2 linked regions of the Homo sapiens genome follow. The protein of the gene in region 2 interacts with the protein of the main gene of each other region in a pairwise test. Each region holds a gene or a part of one and is shown on either strand. Other genes may lie near its edges.

What was found.
Region 1: the proteins of MOCOS (region 2) and PARVA interact in binary tests that used the Homo sapiens proteins (3 or more experiments, as listed by UniProt).

What each region holds. Positions count from the first base shown.
Region 1 is NC_000011.10:12,512,553-12,522,935, forward strand, and holds part of PARVA (alpha-parvin), read left to right. Parts: intron 1-746; coding exon 747-808; intron 809-1,444; coding exon 1,445-1,513; intron 1,514-5,057; coding exon 5,058-5,159; intron 5,160-5,892; coding exon 5,893-5,965; intron 5,966-10,383. UniProt on the Homo sapiens protein: Plays a role in sarcomere organization and in smooth muscle cell contraction. Required for normal development of the embryonic cardiovascular system, and for normal septation of the heart outflow tract.
Region 2 is NC_000018.10:36,196,199-36,206,581, reverse strand, and holds part of MOCOS (molybdenum cofactor sulfurase), read right to left. Parts: intron 7,893-10,383; coding exon 7,826-7,892; intron 6,900-7,825; coding exon 6,258-6,899; intron 3,470-6,257; coding exon 3,393-3,469; intron 1,506-3,392; coding exon 1,306-1,505; intron 1-1,305. UniProt on the Homo sapiens protein: Sulfurates the molybdenum cofactor. Sulfation of molybdenum is essential for xanthine dehydrogenase (XDH) and aldehyde oxidase (ADO) enzymes in which molybdenum cofactor is liganded by 1 oxygen and 1 sulfur atom in active form.

The sequences.
Region 1 (10,383 bases), on a different chromosome or scaffold from region 2:
AAGGAGAATCCCTGCAGGGAGCATGGCTTTGCTATTTTCTATGATCCTGATATTTACTGTGGGTAATATTTTGAAATATTTCAATCATGCTAAAAATTATTCACTTCAGGAGAACATGTCAGAGTTTACAGAGCACGCACATGCTTGTTCTCACACTTCATCCTCATGACAAACCTGAGGGAGGGTTATTTTTAAAATGACATTTTATAGAAGAGGAAACTAAGGCACAAAGAGTTGAAGTGGCCTAGATCACTTAAGAGGAAGAGCTCATATCCCATCCTGGAGCTCCCTGGCTCCCAGCCCTCTTCTCTGTGCCCTCTGCCAGCTTGTTTGTCATGGGTCTCCTGTTTTTGAAAATTGGGGGGTGAAATTATTTAATATTTGGATAACATTCTCCCTCTACAGAGGTTCAGAAACACCTGAACAATAGCTACGTTAGGATATAATGGAATACAATGAAGGGAAATGACTAATCCCGGGTCACACTACCTAAAAGAGCCCTGAGCCTGCCCCAATCCAATAATGTACACATGCACGGACACAGACACAGGCTCCCAGGGTGAGAATCACCCCAAATCTTAGCCCCAAATCACATTCCAGAGTTCCCGGCACAGTCTATACCCCAGAGGCTTCCCATCGGTAGTTGACCTTGTGACCTTGAGAGGCGCGTGGCTCTGGGACCCAAGGTGGGCTTCCCTGCCAGGGATCAGCTCTTGTGCTCCACATTGTGTTTCCCTCTTTTTCAGAACGTGATGCCTTTGACACCTTGTTCGACCATGCCCCAGACAAGCTGAATGTGGTGAAAAAGGTGGGAAAGGGGTGCCTGGGATGGACAGAGGGAAGCGAGATGCAACAGAACATTGGGAAAACCCATCCCTGCAGCTTGCGAGCTTCCTGCCAGAACTGGTGGCATCACCTAACCTCTGCACACACAGGGCTTTCCCCCTTGCCATCCATGTACCTGTCTGTTCCTCACTGGATGTTGCACCTGGGCCTTTTCCCCTCCATCAGCATGAACAGCCTGTCTTCCCACCCAGGCTAACCCCAGCAATCTCAGCCTTCCCCACTCCTCACAGAATTCCCTGTCTCCCTGGCCTAGGCACCTGTGCCGAAGAAGGGACAGGAAGGAGAGATCCAGTGGAATCATTTTATTTCAGTTCCCCCACCCAGACACTGGCTCAGACACTCCACCTATCATTCTGCCTCTTGGGACCTCCTTGTTCCTTACACGCCCTGAGTTGTATGGGACTGCAAAGTCGAGCCTGTGGCCCTCCCTGTGCACTCAATGGCCTTTGCAGAGAGAGCTCCTGGGCCCAGGGCTCTTGGCTGGGCCTGATCCTCTGCTTTCACCCTCACCCTTGCCCTCACGGGAGTCACGGAGCAGCCACAGGCTCCTGCACTAGTGCGAGTCCCCAGCTTAGGGCCTGCTTTGCTTCTCTTTTAGACACTCATCACTTTCGTGAACAAGCACCTGAATAAACTGAACCTGGAGGTCACAGAACTGGAAACCCAGGTGGGTGACAGACCCCAGCACAGGTAGAGGCAGGGCCCTGCCCTACAGCCCCTGTTCCAAGTGGCCCACCACACTTGGCCAGGAGGGCTTTCCCAGCTGAGGGGGATGAGGGCATGGGAATCTGTCCTACTCTGAGGGGTGGACTGAGTCTCTGTGGATTTTTTCCAACTTTTTATTATGAAAATTACAAGAATGAATACTCATATACCCTTCACTGGGATGCACCGATTGTTAATATTTGGCCACACCTCTCTCTCTTTCTCTGCACCCCTAAATGCTTGAGCATATGTCTCTCAAGAACAAGCACATTCTCTTAGGTAACCACAACACAATTATCAAAGGCAGGCAGTTTTAACATAATACATTAATCTGTTTAGATTGAATCATATGAAATTGCTGACATTCGACTGTTTTTGTTTTCTGTTTTGTTTTGTTTTTTGAGATAGAGTTTCACTCTTGTTGCCCAGGCTGGAGTGCAGTGGCAAGATCTCGGCTCACTGCAACCTCTGCCTCCCAGGTTCAAGCGATTCTCCTGCCTCAGCCTGCCAGGTAGCTGGGATTACAGGCATGCGCCACCAAGCCCGGCTAATTTTTTGTATTTAGTAGAGACGGGGTTTCACCATGTTGGTCAGGCTGGTCTCAAACTCAGACCTCAGGTGATCCACCCACCTTGGCCTCCCAAAGTGCTGGGACTATAGGCATGAGCCACCGCACCCAGCTGACTGTTCTTAACCTACTAAAATGGCAACATCATGTGGTTAGAAAAAACACTCTGTTCAGATTTTGCCAGTTGTCCAGTTTGCTCACATGCTGCATTTACTTGTCATGTCTCTTTAGTCTCTTTTTAACGTAGAACAACTCCTCGGCCTTTCTTGTTGTGGCACTGACACTTTTTGAAGTGTTCAGGCCAGTTGGTTTATAGACTGTCTTTTCTGCACATATTAGATTCAGGTCATGCATTTTCATTAACAGCACGTCCCAAGTAAGGCTGTGTTCTTCCCGGGGCATCCCAGGAGGAGGCACTCTGTCCATTAGTCCCACTGCTAGTGATAACTTGGATTATTTGGTTAGGATGGTGTTCACCGGATTTCCCTATTATAAAGTTATTTTTCCTCTCTTTATACTTAACTAATCTTTATTGGGGAGATATTTTGAGCCTGATGAATCCTGTTTCCCCACCTCCTTTCATTCTTGGTGAGCTTCTGCCTTATACTTCTCTTTCAGTCATCTGGGTACCTCCTTTTATTTTAAAGACAAATGCCAGCCTGTCGCTGAGCTCCACCTGAGTGTGTCTAGACTGTGTGAAATGAGCTTCATGTACTCTTGTAGGAAATAAGGAATGTTCTGGAAAAGTGACGCTTCCTTGAGTGAGCTAGAATGGGCCCTGGAATGATCAGCTCCGTTTTCAAGGGCAGGGAGTGCTATGACAGGGGTCACTGCCAAGCACTTTGGGTCTCTACAGTTTTATCTACTATTCCTACCAAGTCAGTGGAACCAGCCATGGGAGGTGAGGAGCAGTCTAAGCCTGGCACTCAGAGCTGTGAATGACCCCAACCCTAACCCAAGGTCACCCCTGAGCTCACAGATTGGATTCTTTTACTCCTAACTCCTTCTCACCACAGCTTGAATGAAGCCCAGTTGCTCAGCTCCCACCAGAAGGGCCTTGATTTTGACAGACTCTGGGGTCTGCTCTCCCGTGTCCACCTAGGGTGAGTCATGCTCAGGCCGTTCCCACCTGAGTTGCAGGCCTGATGGATAGAAGCTGGGAGGAGCTACCCTTTTGTTTTTGAGACAGGGTCTTACTCCTGTCATGCAGGCTAGAGTGCAGTGGCACGATCACGGCTTACTGCATCCTCAACTTCCCAGGCTCAGGTGATCCTCCCACCCCAGTCTCCTGAGCAGCTGGGACTACAGGCATGCACCAACATACCCGGTTAATTTTTTTGTATTTTTAGTACAGACAGGGTTTCACCATGTTGCCCAGGCCAGTCTGGAACTCCTGAGCTCAAGCGATCCGCCTGCCTCAGCCTCCCAAAGTGCTGCGATTACAGGCATGAGCCACCGCACTCGGCCAGAAGCTGCCTTTAAGGCAAGCGCAAGCTCAGGGTCTTGTGCCCTTAATGACGGCTGAGCCGCAGGCCGGCTAGCTGGCTACCTGGAAAGCTCTCTGAGCAGACTCTGGGCTCCTAAGGTGATTCCAAGAAATGTGGCCTTCTCTAAACCCCAGCAGCTATATACACTCATAAACATTTGGTGGCCCAGCCTCCTTTGAAAGGGTTCTAGAATGTCGGATGTGCATCTGACCTCTATGTCTTTGCTAGGCCATCCCCCCTACCTGGAACCCCCTACTCCTCCCAAGGTCCATCATCCCCGGCCTCCACAAGCCTGTCCTGAGCCCTCAGTGTATGCTCACTTCACCCAGCCCTAAGCAGAAGACCAGCAGCCTCCGCACTTAGCTGAGGGACTCTCCTGTCCCTTGGGCCTGGTTTCCCAACCCATCTGGCCTCTTCTGCCTAGGAAGGGACCGGGCTGCAAGCCTCCTGCCAGGGCCCTCAGCACATAGTTCTGCTTTTGCCAGCAAGAGCAAGTAAGTCATGTCCTGATTGCTTTGTTGTTTTCCCAGACAGTAATAGCAACATTTAATATTTATTCAATGCTACATGCCTAGCAGTTTACAGGCCCTCTCTGCATATTTAACTGGCTTAGTCCTCACGATAACTCTGTGACATAGATACTATTCTATTACCATCCCTGTTTTACAGATAAGACATATGAGTACAGAGAAGTGACATAACTTGCCCAAGGCATATAGCTAGTAGGTGAGAGAGCTGGAATTTGCACCTGGGAGGCCTGGCCCCAGAGCCCACATTCATAACAGCTGCACTCTGCTGCTGTAATACTGAAGAGAGATGGGAGAAAGAATGCCCAGCCCTGTGTGACACTAGTCCTTTCTCTGTTCAGAAAGCACAGATCTCCCCAGGAACCTCATGCCATTCACCTTGGACATCACCTCCCCCTCCTCCCTCTGTCCCACTCTAGCCAATCCTGCTCATCCTCAGCTCTCCACTCAGGCTCTGTCCCCTCCAGAAGACTCCTCTGATGCCTTCAGTGCTTGTGGGCGACCTTTCTCAACCTCACTCAGGCCAGCGAGCTTCCTTCCATCAGAGCAGCTGTGCCTTGCCCCCACACCAGTTTCCCTATTAGACTGTGTACTCCTCCAGGGCAGGAGCCACACTGACCACCCCCCACCCCCCACCCCCCACCATGCTCTGGTCCCCATGCCTAGACCAGGAGTTGGTACACAGCCTCTGTTCAGTAAATGCTGGGTCAGCTGAGATCAGGGCCTGGGCTTGTGGCTCCTGTGCCAGCCAGACGTGGGGCAGAGCAGACCTCCTTGTCTCGGGCCACTGCCCCTACCCCCGAGCTAGCAGCCTGGCTGGGGTGGTAGGCTTCAGGTGGCATAGCACAGAAGTTGATGGGCCCCCTGGATGGGGATTGGCTGGGAGGCTCAGGGGCCAGTGCCATCACCTGGCTCTTCCTCCAGTTTGCAGATGGGGTGTACCTGGTGCTGCTCATGGGGCTCCTGGAGGGCTACTTTGTGCCCCTGCACAGCTTCTTCCTGACCCCGGACAGCTTTGAACAGAAGGTAAGGAGAAGGGACATCAAGGGAGGCCCCCTAGCCCACATCCCCTGACTCATGTGCCCACACCCATGCTGGGGCTATCCAGAAAAAAGGCAGAAGCTTCCCCTCTGCTCAACGTCTTCAGTGCCTGGAGGTGGGACCCATTATAAGAGCTGAGCTGGGAAGGAGCTACCTGCAGACCACTGGGCATCCCTGACTGCCTTTCCCTTGCCCTGAAGCCTGGCCCGGGTCCCCTGCCCTGTGTCCCTGTCAAGTGCCCCAGCCCAGCCTCCTCTCTCCCCAGAGATGACAAGGAAAGTGACTGTGAAGCTGGTCAGCCCTGAGGCTCATGCTTAGCCTGGTTCTGATGGCCTCTCGTAGGCTGCCACATCCTGCTCGCTACACAAAGGCATTTGACCAGAAAGCCTGCTCTGCCTGTTGAACATGTCCTGCCATCTGATTCTTCCAGACGTGTGCACTGACACCCCCAATTTGAAGTCCTGGCAGTTTACACAGGAACACAGTAGGATATGAAGGGAGTTTTGTGCTTCTCCAGGAGTGCTTCTCCCAACAGCAAGCTAGGATCAGCTAGCTCACGCTCCAGGTGGCCTGCCCATTTTGGTAGCCATATTTCTCCTTGAAATTAGTTCAGCCTCTGTCCCTCTGGCTACAGTGCTGGGCTCCTTCACTTCCCAGGGCCAGGTCCTGGGGCTCCTGGGTGTGCAATGGTACATGCTGTCTGCATCTCTCTTGCCAGGTCTTGAATGTCTCCTTTGCCTTTGAGCTCATGCAAGATGGAGGGTTGGAAAAGCCAAAACCGCGGCCAGAAGGTACTTTGCTCTTTCCTGGGTTTGTGACAACAGAGTGAGACCCTCTCCCTGCACATGAGTACTCAGATTTTGTAGCAGAGGGAAGCATTTTCTGAAGCCTTCGTTGCTGGGGAAGGTGGGACTCGGTGCAGCTGCTCAGTCCCAGAGACCCTTTGTGAGCTGCCAGCTGCACAGCCAGGGGAAGAAAAGAATCTGAAATCCCACACATGCCATGCGTGGGATCGCGGGGATCAGGGACCGAGCAGAACTGCTGCTGCAGGAACTGCCCTGTGCCCAATTTCCAGGTTTTCCTGTCCCTGCACAGGGTGCTGACCTGCCAAAGAGCTGTGTCCCCGCCAGTCGGGGTGAAGGTGCAGCGCAGACAGTTCTGGGCTGAGCAAAACTGCTTCTCTCCTTACAGATGCGGAGCTCTGCCTGCTCAGACTCTGTCTGAGGACAGGCCATGATTTGTGGGGTTTGGGTTGTAAATATAAGTCTGAGGGGAAATGCAGAAGGGACAAGTGCTTCTGCAGCCCCTGCATACTCCTGCTAGGAGTGCACACGTGCATTCGTGAGCAGAGGAGGCACGCTTCTCTTAGTAGTCTTGGTACGGATGATTGCTTTCTGCCCCTTACTGACTGAAGTATTCCATTTCACCAGAGCTGGCAGGTCACCACTGTGTTGCAGATAATCTCCTGCATATGTCCCCTGGGAACACTGAGAATGCCATCTGTGGCCCTTTTGCTCGCACTTTTCTGGTAGTTTATAGGCAAGTGGATGAGTAGGAATGGTGGGCTCTCATGCCCCCTTCCTGCCTCTGCTCTGAGCTCCTCTATCCAAACCCCCACCTAGTGGGGGCCATGCCCTGGTCTAGTGGGCTTGAGACCCTGTAGACCATGATATAACAAGAGGGGTAAGACCTTCCTGAACCTCAAGGCACGTGTAGCCAACCAGGGAAGAGAAAAGTTGGAGCCAGTTAGCAAAATGAAATGACAGTCATGGGAACTGTTACGAAAGAGGTACAAGGAAGAGTCTGTGAGGACTGAGGAGGTGATACCACTTCTGTCTTGGGGGAGGAACAGTTTGATGGAGACAGTGGGGCTCAACCATAAGGACCAGGTAGGGCTTTGGTGTATGGAGACTGGGAGAGAAGTGTGTGCATGCCAGACAGAATGACAGCATGAGCAAAAGTCCCCCCGGGGAAGAATGGGGACCCTGTCTCATGACTCCTTCCAGACTCGTTATCTATTGACTCTAGCCAACAAAGGTCAACTCCTGTTCTCATTTATTACCACCTTGTCCTAAGCCCCTGGTCAACTGAGACCTGGGGGAGGACCTCTAGCAAGGCTGGTGTCCCCCTGGGGCTCTCTCTTTGGCAAGGCCACTCCAGCCTTCCTAATGCCATTAGGAATGGACTCTTCTTGTTCTGTGGGCAGATGATGAGCACCCTGCTTCTGGGAGGACAGACACAGTGAGAAAGTTCCGACCATCATTTTGCTTCCACTTTCTTCAACCACTTAATATGAAACTTCCTGGTTACAGATTGGAAGTACTTCTGCTATTTTAGAATTGGGATATTTCTTTCCCTTGGGACAGATAATTTTCCCAATATAAATCAATCTATGGGAATATTTTGGAATATAGGTGATATTTTTATGCAATTATTAAGTTGCTGAATGTGAAACTAACAGACTGATGTGGATGGAAAAACACGTGTTTTATTTGTTATGACACAGGGCATTATGCCCATGCTGCAAATTTCCAGTACGTAAAGGGGAATGGAAATAGCATTTTATGAAATTGTACTTTGAAAGAAGTGAATCCCAGCATTCCGTCTGGTTTTTATGCTTCTACCTGGAAAGTGAGATTTGGAAGTAAATGATGCAGACATTTCAAAGGGTGCCAATGTGGGTAATTCTTTGAGGGCATTTCAAAATCAAACTGGTTGTGGTGGAGGCATTTTTCATGGCAACATGTTTTTAAGGTCAGGAAAATGCATTCTCTGCTGTGCTGTTTAACACTCAAAGCTCTGTTGTGCCTTGAAATCCCCTAGAAACTGGGTTTGTATCTGAGATGACTTGCTGCCCAGGCTTCATGACCGTTTAGTGCCTGAGTTAGTGTAAGCCAAGGGTTAGCATCAAGTTCCTAACCAGTGGAGCAGTCGAAATAATGGCCAGGCATGGAAGCTCACACCTGTAATCCCAACACTTTGGGAGGCCAAGGTGGGCAGACGGCTTGAGCTCAGGAGTTTGAGACCAGCCTGGGCAACATAGTGAGACCCCACCTGTACAAAAAATACAAAAAAATTAGCCAGGTGTAGTGGTGCATGCCTGTGGTCCCAGCTCCTCGGGAGGCTGAGGTGGAAGGGATCGCTTGAGCCTGGGAGGCGGAAGTTGCACCACTGCACTCCAGCCTGGGCAACAAAGTGAGACCCTGTCTCAAAGAAAGGAAAAAAGGAAAGAAAAAGAAATATTGTCATGCAGCTGGCAGCTTTTTATTTAGGGCATCGTGCCACATGTCTTCAAATGCACATGTCCACCCTGTTATCACCTTTCAAGTAGACTCATCATCAATTATGGTTAAGACTCCAGAATAACAGGCAGGCAGGGACTCAGAAGACATCTAGTACCAGGCAGGATTGAAGTCTGTAGGACTAAATATCTAAAATTTAAGGAGTCTCATACCTGGGACCAGATGGCAAGCAATGCTGAAAAACCAAGCAGGTTATGGCAGCTTAGTTCCAGGTGATCACTTCATTTGGGGAAGACTTGGTCAGTGGCTGATAACATGGAAAATGTTCAACTCCCCCATTCCCCTAGGAGATAGTGTACAGAAGCCAATGGTGACAAACATTTAAAACTCTAATCATACCAAGTGTTAGCAAGGATGTAGAGCAACAGAAACTGCTGGTGTTCTAAATTGCTAGAACCATTTTATTTTTATTCAGTCCCTATTTAGCCGAAAGTAGAAAACAGTTTGTTCTCATCTAACATAGTTGAAGATTTGTAATACGCTATAAAATAATGTGGTAGACACCCCCTGCCAAAATAATGTGGTCTCCACCCCTGGCCAAAAACGTCCAGGTCCTAATCCTCGGTACCTGTTCATGTGTTATCTTACATGGCAAAAGGGACTTTGCAGATGTGATTAAATTTAGGGTCTTGAGATGATGACATTATCTAGGTGGTCCCAATGTCATCACAGGGGTCCTTATTATAAGTCGAAGTGGGAGGCAGGAGTGTGAGGGTGATGTAGCATAAGAAAGGCTCACCCAACCATTGCTGGCTTTGGGGATGGAAGAGGTCTATGAGCCAGAGAATGCAGGCAACCCCAGAGGGTTAGAACATGAGTAACTAACTGCCTTATGGCCACCTAACTTATTCCATCCCCCACTTGGAAAGAACAAGTGTAACGATCTCCATTTCGAGCCTCCAGAAAAAAATGCAGCTGTGCTGACACCGTGATTTTATCTCAGTGAGATGGATTTGGGGCTTTTGATTTCTAGAATTCAGAGATAATACATTTATGTTGTTTTTAGGCCACCAAATGTGTGCTAATTTACTACAGCAGTAATAGGAAGTTAGCACACTCCTTGACTTAGCAATTCCATTCATAGGTACGTATGTCCATACACCAGGAGACAAGCCCAAGAATACCCATGATAGCATAGGCTGGAGTGTACATCCCAGTAGACTAGCTACATAAATTGAAGCATATTCATATCATGGATTATAATACAACCATGACAATAAAAAAGACTGAACTGAGAAGTCAGGGCAGGAACTTCTAGTTACTGTAGCCTGAAGAGATCAGTGACTATTCTCTGCAAAAAAGCAAGTGTAAAACTGGACAAAAATCATCAAAACAATGATTTTGAAGCACTGAAAACCTACCAGAGGTAGACAACAAATCAAGAGCTTTATTCTTTTTTTTTTTTTTTTTCTTGAGACGGAGTTTCGCTCTCCAGGCTGGAGTGCAATGGCGTGGTCTCGGCTCACTGGAACCTTCCCCTCCCAGGTTCAAGAGATTCTCCTGCCTCAGCCTCCCAAGTAGCTGGGATTACAGGCTGCCACCACCACACCCAGCTAATTTTTGTATTTTTAGTAGAGACGGGGTTTCACCATGTTGGCCAGGCTGGTCTTGAACTCCTGATCTCAGGTGATCCGCCTGCCTCGGCTTCCCAAAGTGCTGGGATTACAGGCGTGAGCCACCCTGCCCGGCCAAGAAGCTTTATCCTTGAACAATTATAGAATTATAGTTGGATAATTATAGCTATACCTCAGTAAAACTGTTAAAAAAAAAAAAACAGACAGCTCATGTAACAACATAGATGAATCCTGTGAAATACAAAAAGAGGCAACATTTGAAGCTACTGTTCAAGGGCACGTATGTTGATGCTAGGACTGGTAAGAAAAGCAAGGAAGTAATCATAAGTGTCA
Region 2 (10,383 bases):
ATGTATCCCCTGAACCTAAAATAAAAGTTGGAAGAACGCCGGGCACAGTGGCTCACATCTGTAATCCCGGCACTTTGGGAGGCTGAGGCGGGCAGATCACCTGAGGTCAGGAGTTCAAGACCAGCCTGACCAACATGGTGAAACCCCATCTCTACTAAAATATAAAAACTAGCCAGGCATGGTGGCACATGTCCGTAGTCCCAGCTGTTTAGGAGGCTGAGGTGAGAGAATCACTTGAACCCAAGAGGTGGAGGTTGCAGTGAGCTGAGATCACGCCACTGCACTCCAGCCTGGGTGACAGAGCAAGACTCCATCTCAAAAAAAAAAAAAAAAAAAAGTTGGAAGAAAAAATAAAATAAAAATAAAGTGCCAGGTACCTCCCTCACCCTCTCTCTTGCTTCCTCTCTGGCTGCACATACCAGTTCACATTTGCCTTCCTCCACAGGTGGAAGCAACCTAAGGTGTTCACCAATGCCCAATCTTCCAGTCAACAGAACCATGAGCCAAATAAACCTTTTTTTCTTTGTTAAAAACAAAATGTGGGCCAGGCACAGTGGCTCACACCTATAATCCCAGCACTTTGGGAGGCCAACACAGGTGGATCACTTGAGGTCAGGAGTTTGAGACCAGCCTAGCCAAAATGGTGAAACCCCGTATCTACTAAAAATACAAAAATTAGCCAGGTGTGGTGGTGTGTGCCTGTAATCCCAGCTACTCGGAAGGCTGAGGCATGAGAATTGCTTGAACCCAAGAGGTGGAGGTTGCAGTGAGCCAAGATCATGCCATTGCATGCCAGCCTGGGTGAAAGAGCGAGACCCCACCTCAAAAAAATAAATAAAAATGGGGATGCAGATGTGCTTTCAAGGAAAAACCAGCACCGTCTTCCAAACACCCAACGATTGAATCCATTCCCCACAGTGCTGCTCTGGGAGTAACATTTGGTTCCTGTTGTCCATCTGTGACACCCCGTCTGATAACCACCTACCACCATGCCTGAGTGCTCAGTGCAACTCTGGACATTTTAGTGGACCAGGAAGTGAAGTGAACAGCTTATTCTACTATGGCAAAGACCCAACAGTTTCCCACCTGCCATCAGAAGAACTGGCCTCTTTCTTCCCATTTGAAAGTTACCACTTTTGGCTGAGTAAAGAGGACTGAAAAACGAGGGTGAATGAAGGTGGAAAGGCATGTGGCTGAGGGCCTGGTGGCCTCTTCAACAGTGCATGGACTTTGTCACACTACATTGCTCTCGTCTGGAACTAGGATGAGTTGTAATAAAGTCAGCAGGATGGAAAGAAAACCCACCTGGGAGTAACCAATGATGTTCCCTTTGTCATCCAGCACATTAAAATTGATGATTGGGCCCTGAACCTCAGGGCTGCTGAACTCAGAATCGCTGTAAATCCGCACCACAGGGGCTCCATTGGGGTACTGGAGAGAGGACAGGGCCACGTAGGTATACTGAGCCAAGGTGAAGGTGTGCTGCTTTATATTCTCCATTCCACCTCAAATCAATCATGAAACACAAGAGAATCATGAGCTTTATGTAAATTCTCAATTCACTCTTTTTTTTTTTTTTTTTTTTGAGACACGGTCTCACTCACTCTGTCACCCAGGCTGGAGTGCAGTGGTATGATCACAGCTCACTGCAGCCTCAACCTCCTGGGCTCAGGTGATCCTCTCACCTCAGCCTCCCAAGTAGCTGGGACGACAGGCATTCACCACCATGCCTGACTAATTTTTGTATTTTTTGCAGAGATGGAGTTTCACCATGTTGCCCAGGCTTGTCTTGAGCTCCTGGGCTCAAGTAATCCACCTGCCTCAGCCTCCCAAAGTGCTGGGATTACAGGCATGAGCCACCACGCCTGGCACCACTAACTCACTTTTAAGAAAACAAGTTTGTTATAACTGGCAAACCTGGACCTCACATTAATAATTTTAAATGTGTGTAAATAGTGGATGGTACTGCCCTTGTGACAAATGTTTAGGTCTTCAGTACTGAACAACAGAATTTTTCCATAGGCATTCCTGTCATCCTCTTTTTTATACATAATGTTACTTAAACATTTAGATATTTAGACCCTTTGGTAACAGATCACAAAATGTATGTTTTTTCCTCTAAACATATTTTTGCTGTTTGTTTTTATTATTAATGTTTAAATCATTTTAACACTACACAAAGCAATGAAGAATACATGCTTCAACATGAATGAATCTTGGAAACGTGCTAAGTGAAGCCAGACACAAAAGGACAAATGTCGTATGATTCTACTTAGATGAGTTACCAAGAATAGGCAAATCCACAGAGAAAAAAAAGTAGTTCCAAGGGTTGGAAGGGGAGGAGGAAATAGAGAGTTATTGTTTAATGGGTACAGAGTTTCTGTTTGGTATGGTAAAGTTCTGGAAATAGATAGTGGTGATGGTGGCACGACATTGTGAATGTATTTACTACGACTGAGTTGTACACTTAAAAATAGTTAAAATGGTAAGTTTTATGTTATGTATAGTTTACCACAATTTTTATTTTTTAAAAAAGGAACAATGACATAGGAAAAAAATCAGGGTTTGCCATATTGTGGACTGGTACAGTCAACCTTTGCATTCCGAGCTACCTGGACCTGTTAGACACTGTCACCTGCAGTTTGGGGGCCCTGTTAATATCTTTCCTTGGAAAGTACTCACTACTCACTGCCTGTATTTATTAACTACTCCGTTTGTCCCAGATCATGCCCACTCACCTCCCTGCATTGCCATCAGGGCGACCCTCTCTTCCCGTGAATCCTGTCTGCCCCTATGTTGGGCTAAGGCTAAGGTTAAGGCACTGAAGGGTCCCATTACTGTGACAAAAGAGCAATGGCCAGGAAAGAAATCATGCCTCATGCGAAGACCATCGGCAGACACAGTGGTTGGGTGCTCATGGTTAGGCATCAGTATGACTTGGGTTAAATCCTTGCCCTCCTGGTTTCCAGCTCCCTGGCCTGGAAGGCGTTTAACCTCTCTGAGCATCAGCTCATTCATAGGCAGAGCTCCCCCGTGGGGCAGTGGGGAGGACCCAGAAAGGCAAGAGCAGGTAAAGGCCTCAGGATCTGTAACCATTCCCAGGACCCAGGGATGCTCCTCTCATTCTGTGAAGCTAGCAATCTCCTGATTTGGAATGTCTTCTACCTGTTAAAATGTTATTTTAGCTGAAAAAACAAAAAACAATCCAAAAACCCCACCTCATTCTCTTGCTCTCTGAAGTGGTTTTGAAGTTACTAGGAATCAAATTTAACTACATGGAGTGCCAGTCACTTCCACAGACTCTGTCTCCTTTACCTGAATCACACCTGTGCCAGAGCTCCCTCAAGGACACAACAGGAGCAAATTCCACAGGGATAGAAATGTCCACTGACCTGTGAGGCGCTCTAGGGTGTCAAATCCATGTTTTAGCGCGATAACATCAAGGAATGAGATGGTGCCATCTTCAAACCTATAACCACGGGGTAAGGAGAACAGGTCAAGCTGTGGTCAAAACAATCCATGTGCATTTCGTGGTATATAATGAGCTTTAGATTTTAGGCTTAGCTGTTGATGTGGTTTGGCTTTATGTCTCCACCTAAATCTCATCTCTAATTGTAATCCCCAGGTGTTGAGGGATGGACCTGGTAGGAGGTGATTGGATTATGGGGATGGTTTCCCCCTTGCTGTTCTCATTTCGTGATAGTGAGGGAGTTCTCACGAGATCTGATGGTTTTATAAATGGCAGTTCCCCTGGGCTCTTCTCTGTCTCTCCTGCTGCCTTGTGAAGAAAGTGCCTGCTTCCCTTTCCGCCATGATTGTAAGTTTCCTGAGGCCTCTCCAGCAATGCAGAACTGTGAGCCAATTAAACCTCCTTTGTTTATAAATTACCCAGTCTTGGGTAGTATCTTTATAACAGTGTGAAATTGGACTAATACCGCTGTAATCTATTAATACCTTCCCTCTGCTGTCTTATAAAACATTGCTCTCCCCTTCAGGATGGGGGCACTTTGTACACCAAGACCTGTCCAGCTGCCTCTGGCCCTGACCCACTCTGCAGTTTTCTTGGGCTGCTCTAAATTTCCTAGGGTGGCCAGGTGCAGTGGCTCATGCCTGTTATCTCAACACTTTGGGAGGCCCAGGTGGGAGGATCACTTGAGGCCAAGAGTTTGAAACTACCTGCCTGTGCAACACCCCATCTCTACAAAAAGCAAGACCCCATCTCTAGATAGCAAGACCCCATCTCTACAAAAAAATTTGTTAAACTAGCCAGTTATTGATTGACAATTATTTATTGATCAAATACTTAATAGATTTCTTAAAATAAAAGTTTTTTGTTTCTGTCAAGGGATGTACTTCGCTGAGTTATAAAATAAAGTTGAGAACATAGTCAAGGTATTTATTCAATAAACCTTTAGGTTGAGTATTAAATCTATTGAGTTCTAGTCCTAAGTTCACAAGAAAAAAATTGGCTTATAATGGTAAATAAATAAATTCAGCTTTCTGGGAATGTTGGCGTGTCATCTGTTGTAAAGTCATCTACCTGAATCAAAGGAAAGAGGTCTGATCCCCCCCAGCCCATTCATGCCCTGGCCCCCAGTGAGCTGCCCCACTTCTCCTGGCCTTCAGGTGCCCTTATTGGCCAAATTAAATTTGAGGTGTCGCTTTGTTCTGCCTGTAACTTACATTATGTTATGCCTGTCATTCTTTTCTCATTTGATTCTGTTACATGGTAAATTATCACACTTGGAGTCAAGAGGTTTTACATGAGCATTCCTGTTTTAGAAGCCCCCCAACTATGGACAAGTCCTAAATAAAAGAGGCATCAAATAGCCTCCTAACATTGATCCCTACCATTCTGATACTTCACCCATGTTAGCTCTAAAAGGACAATATTATCATTTCTTTTTTTTTTTTTTTTGGAGATGGAGTCTTGCTCTGTCACCAGGGCTAGAGTGCAGTGGGTATGATCTTGACTCATTGCAACGTCTGCCTCCTGGGCTCAAGCAATTCTCCTGCCTCAATCTCTTGAGCAGCTGAGATTACAAGCACCCACCACCACACTCAGCTAATTTTTGTGTTTTTAGTAGAGACGGAGTTTCACCATGTTGGGCAGGCTGGTCTCGAACTCCTGACCTCATGATCCACCCACCTTGGCCTCCCAAAGTGCTGGGATTACAGGTGTGAGCCACCACACCCGACCCAATATTATCATTTCTACTTTACAGAAAAAACATGAGGTGCAGAGAACAAGTCACATGTCCCCTCGCTGGTGTGCAGTGGAGCGGGGACTCATTCCCCAGTGGTCCAGCCTGAGGCTTACACAGCTAACACTGACTCTATCGTCAAGGCCATGGCCCTACGTGCAGGACCCTTGCGTCTGTGTGGGGTCTGTTGGGGATCTAAAGCCCTTCCCGTCTATGCCCCAGGCCTTCTCCGGACCCTGGAGGTGATTAGTTGCCTACCCAACCCTGTGTCCCCACTGTTGACCCAGCAGAACCCTGGATCAGCCACCATTTTCAGCCTTGACACACTCGACCTTACAGGTCCCAGCTGTTACCATTTGAAAGAGTCCTGAGCATAACCCACACCACCTGCCCTTGCAGCCTGGGGATGATGCATATGCCAACAACCCAGGCAGAGGCCTCTGGCATTTGAGGGCAAGTGACAACCTGCACCCAGACTCCCTCTGTAACTCACTCACAGTGGGGCTCATAGAGGTTGCCGCTAACACTGCCTCACAAGTCTGGGGGCCTCTGCTTTAACTGATTCCTCCTGCTAACTAGGTGCCAGGCTGAGCTGATCCTAGCTCCTGGAGAACCAGCTATGCTGTCAATGTGTGGGCAGACTTTTTCCAAATGGTGCCACCTTTTAAAGCCACTGGGTGCCACCTTTTAAGGCCACTGTTTCAACTGTTGCAACCTCTTGTCAGTGCTGAGGGCAGAGGCCTGGTAGCTCACCCTCCTTACCCCATGAGGGCCTTTTATCTCTCCTGTGTGCAGTTCTTATCTGCAGGCCCCAGTCCTCTCACAGCTCTGGAGAAGCCTCTCAAATGGGGGTAGAGTTCACTGAACACCTGTGTCACCTCCAGTCAACTTCTGCCTCCCAGATCTGAGCCCTGCCATCAGCCTGTCCCTGCCAGCAACCTGAATTCTGCTGACCCTCAAAGCCAGACCCACCTCTTGCATAATCCTCCAGGAGAAACAGGCCAGACCCCACCTTGCTGAACTCCTCTGACCCCTCCCCTGTGGCAAGGTTACCTCTGAGCTACCGACTGCCTCGGGATGTAGAAGTCTTCTCCTGCTAGGTACGCAGAGGCTGTCCCTCCTCCAAAGTAGGTCTTCCTCAGTAGAGGAGCCGCACGATTATGGACCAGCAGAGCGCCCAGGCCTGTAGGAAACCCGAAGATCTTATAGAAGGAGATGGGGACAAAGTCGGCCTGGTGAGCTGACAGGTCCAAAGGCGAGGTGCTCACGTAGGAGGCTGCATCCAGCAGCACAAACCACTTCCCAGGCGTGCTCACAGGGTGCAACCGCCCAGACTTGACCTCTTCTATCCAGGACAGGGGGTATCTGACTCCAGAAAAGTTACTCTGAGCTGGGTAGCAGAAGAGATGCGGCAGCTGGCAGTCTGGGTTGCTGGCTGAAGCACTACGTTCCTCTGCAGACCACAGGTCCTCTGGCCTGACCGGGGTGGATATGACATTTATAGCCATGGTCACGTTCCGCATACCCACTACGGAGGTGTGGCTGTCGGTGAGGTAACAGAAGCGACTCCCACTGCTCTCTGGGCCCTGGGACACCCATGGAAAGGCCTCTGCCACCAGTTTGAGAGCAGCCGTGCTCCCGGCAGTGAAGATCACAGTGTAGTCTTCTGCGGTGGTGTGGAAGTGCGCCAGGATTCTGGAAGAAGCACAGCATCCCCGCAACCCGCGGATCTCAGCCCCAGCACTGAATGTTTGCAGGCTGTTTTATTTCTATTAACTATGACATCTCTACCTTAATGGATAGATAGGTTTGCCACAGCTGCGAAATTAGGGCGAGGGCAATGGAAGCCGTGGGAACGAGTTCCAGTTGGCAAAATCCTCTTACCTCCCAAATATCACTGGATATCTCCAATTGGATATGTATGACAAAAAATCCACAATAAACTTAATCAGAGTTGATACTACTTTCTCTCCTTGGTGCTTTCTGCTCAGCTCTAACATAACAAGGTTTAAGTAGTAATCAACCTGTTTACATTGCTTTTAGTTTTGGCAACTCTAATAGCAAAACAGTATCACTTTCACATTTGAACTAACTTGAAATTGTGTGATTGGAAATTGTGTTAATAATTTTAAGGACAACCTGGAAATTATTTGCCAGATACTGTTATGTTTAGAAAGTATAGAGAGCTGTTTAACATACAAATACTAGTAAAAAAGGGGGGAAAAGGGAAAAAAGACAGGAAGAAAACAAGTTGCCTAATAAAACTTCTTATGAAAAGGAAAACCAGAGAAATAGTACTTTTCTTCTTTCTGAAAACAAGACCTAGGATCCTGGGTCACTTCCTGTCACTTTGGCACTGCAGAGTCTCTGGAGCCACACAGAACAGCTGTGTGCACCTCAGAGCCACCTACCTGTGTGTCTCATCTGCCCCACACTGCATCTACTCACCGCTGCCTTTCTGAGCTCTGACTCTGATGTTTCTCAACATACATGCATTGCCTTTTAGCCAACTGTGATCCTCCTGAAACCAACTCAGAACTTTTGTGGGATGCAGGCAAGTCCTAGGAAGGAAGTCTGTCTGCCTAGGTATGCCCAGTCAGGCAGGTGTCCCTGATGCTTACCTGTAGCGCACCTGCTCCACAGTGTCATGGGTGAGCTTGCTGCTGATGTTCTGGCTGTGAGGATTACCTGGCAGGTTACAAAGACAAGGCCACCAAGTCACTACTTAGGGTCGCTTCTTTTGTGTTCCTTCTGAATCCACTCCCTCAGTTTCTCAAAAAGCTCAACATAAAACTACCATATCACCTAACAATTCCACTCCTAGATTTCTATCCCTCAAAAATGAAAACTTATGTCCATACAGACTTGCATGGGAATGTTCGTAGCTTTATTCAGAAAGTCAAATTCTGGAAACAATATAAATGTCCATCAATGGGTGAACAGATAAACAAAATATGCTACATCCATAAAATAAAAAGTGATTTGGTTTTTTGTTCTGTCTTGCTCCATCACCCAGGATGGAGGGCAGTGGCATGATCATAGGTCACTGCAGCCTCAAACTCCTGGGCTCAAGCGATCCTCCCATCTCAGCCTCCTAACTGTGACTACAGGTGTGCACAACTACACCTGGCTAACTTTTTAAAATTACTTTTTGTAGAGATGAGGTCTCACTGTGCTGCCCAGGCTGGTCTTGAACTCTTAGGTTCAAGCAATCTTCCTGCCTCAGCCTCCCCAAGTGCTAGGATTGCAGGCATGAGCCACTGTGCCCAGCCAGGGAAGTTATTTGCCAATAAAAAGGAACAAACTACTGGCTATGCCATGAAAGAACTTCAAAAGCATGATAAATGAAATACTCCAGACACAAGAATATACATAATGCATGAATCAATTTACATTAAATGTCCAGCAAAAGAATTGTAGAGATACAGAAAGTAGTAGATTAGCAATTGCCTGGGGGTAAGGTCAGCAACAAGGATTAGCTGTAATGGGCATGAAGGATCTTTTCAGGGGAATGAAAACATCTAACTGATTTATAGTGATGATTGCATCACTAGGTCAATCACTAAAAAATCATCATTGGACACCTGAAATAGATTTTTTTTAAGAGAGACACAATCTTACTCTATCACCCAGGCTGGAGTACAGTGGCTGATCATAGCTCACTATAACCTTGAATTCCTGGGCTCAAGGGCTCCTCCTGCCTCAGCCTCCTGAATAGCTAGCACAACAGGCATGTGCCACCACACCTGGCTGATTTTTTAAAATTTTTGTTTTTTGTAAAGATAGGCTCTTGCTATGTTGCCCAGGGTTGTCTTGAACTCCTGGGCTCAAGCAATCCTCCTACCTTGACCTACCAAAGCACTGGGATTATAGGCCTGAGACACTGTACCCAGCTGGTAAATTTTATGATATAGTTAAAAAAAAAAATCTCTCCTCACTAGTAAAACCAAATGTGATCGGGAAGAGTATTTTAGAGCTGGAAGTCAGCTCAGAAGCAGGCCAGTGCAAGAGTCTGTTCTACATGTTCCAGACAGGTGGCTGTGGCTCTGTTTAACTCCAGAGAATGCAGTATACAGCCTCAGGAGGATGCCCTTTTCTCCAAGCATGAAGCAGAGCCATGAACGCCACTTAATCTAAGTCCCCACGTATTGCCCTGCAGATCCCACCACCACTGCTGATGCCTTTCCTGCAGAAATAATTGATCCCGGCCTCCAAATATGTGAAGGGGGCCACTGTGCTGCCCTTAGCCATCCACTTTCAAGGAGGAAGGCCCTCCTCCCAATGTCACTCTTCCTCTTAACTTCTAGTTTTGCTCCCTTCCTGGTGTCCTCACCAAATGTGTCCCAGAGTATCATGACCTCCCTCAAACTTAACCCCCAGACAGGCTTTGGTAGGGCCTGACCTATAAGACCAGGCACCAGCATTTCTCAGGAGCTACATGTGCTCATTAACGCAGAATTTGCCCTTTAGTTTTAGACTTTTTTTTTCCTCCAAAATACACTGAAAGATTGCACTGGATTTCTGGCCACTGCAGCTACCATATGTTCTGTTTCCACATTGCTAGTAACCTGTGGGACCTGGTAATTATCCTCATTGCCTTTCCTCTGCTTGGCTTTAGCGCTGCATCATTACCACCACCTGCAATCTCAACTCTGCCATCTCTCAGGCTTTCCCACGGTTATGGCTCTTGCAAAGGTTAAAGAAGGAGAATTACAAGAACCTTTGCAAACTGCAGATTAAAATCAGGATAAATCCCTCCTTGGCACCTTCCCAGAAGACTGTTCCCCAGATTTAAATATCTGCTGGCTGCCCAGAGCCAAAATCCAAACCCCTTAATGTGGCATAACAGAAGTATCCTGAATCGAGGCACTCTGGTGGAGGCTAAGGGCTTGGGCTCTGGAGCTAAACTGCCTGCAAACACAGCTTCTAGCTCCTCCAAGCTCCAGTCCTTCCTGTGCAGCCTCAGGCTAGTTACTTGCCCTCTCTGGGGCCCCATTTCTTCACCTATAAAACAGGAGTGATACCAGAACCTATGCCTCTTGGGTTGTTGTGAGGCTGAAGAGAGAAAGCTCATAGCGAGTACCTGATAAATGTTACTTATCGTTATTCTCATCACAAATATTACAATTGCTACTGCCACTATGATTTCAAGTTCCCTTTCCAAAGTATGTGAGATCAT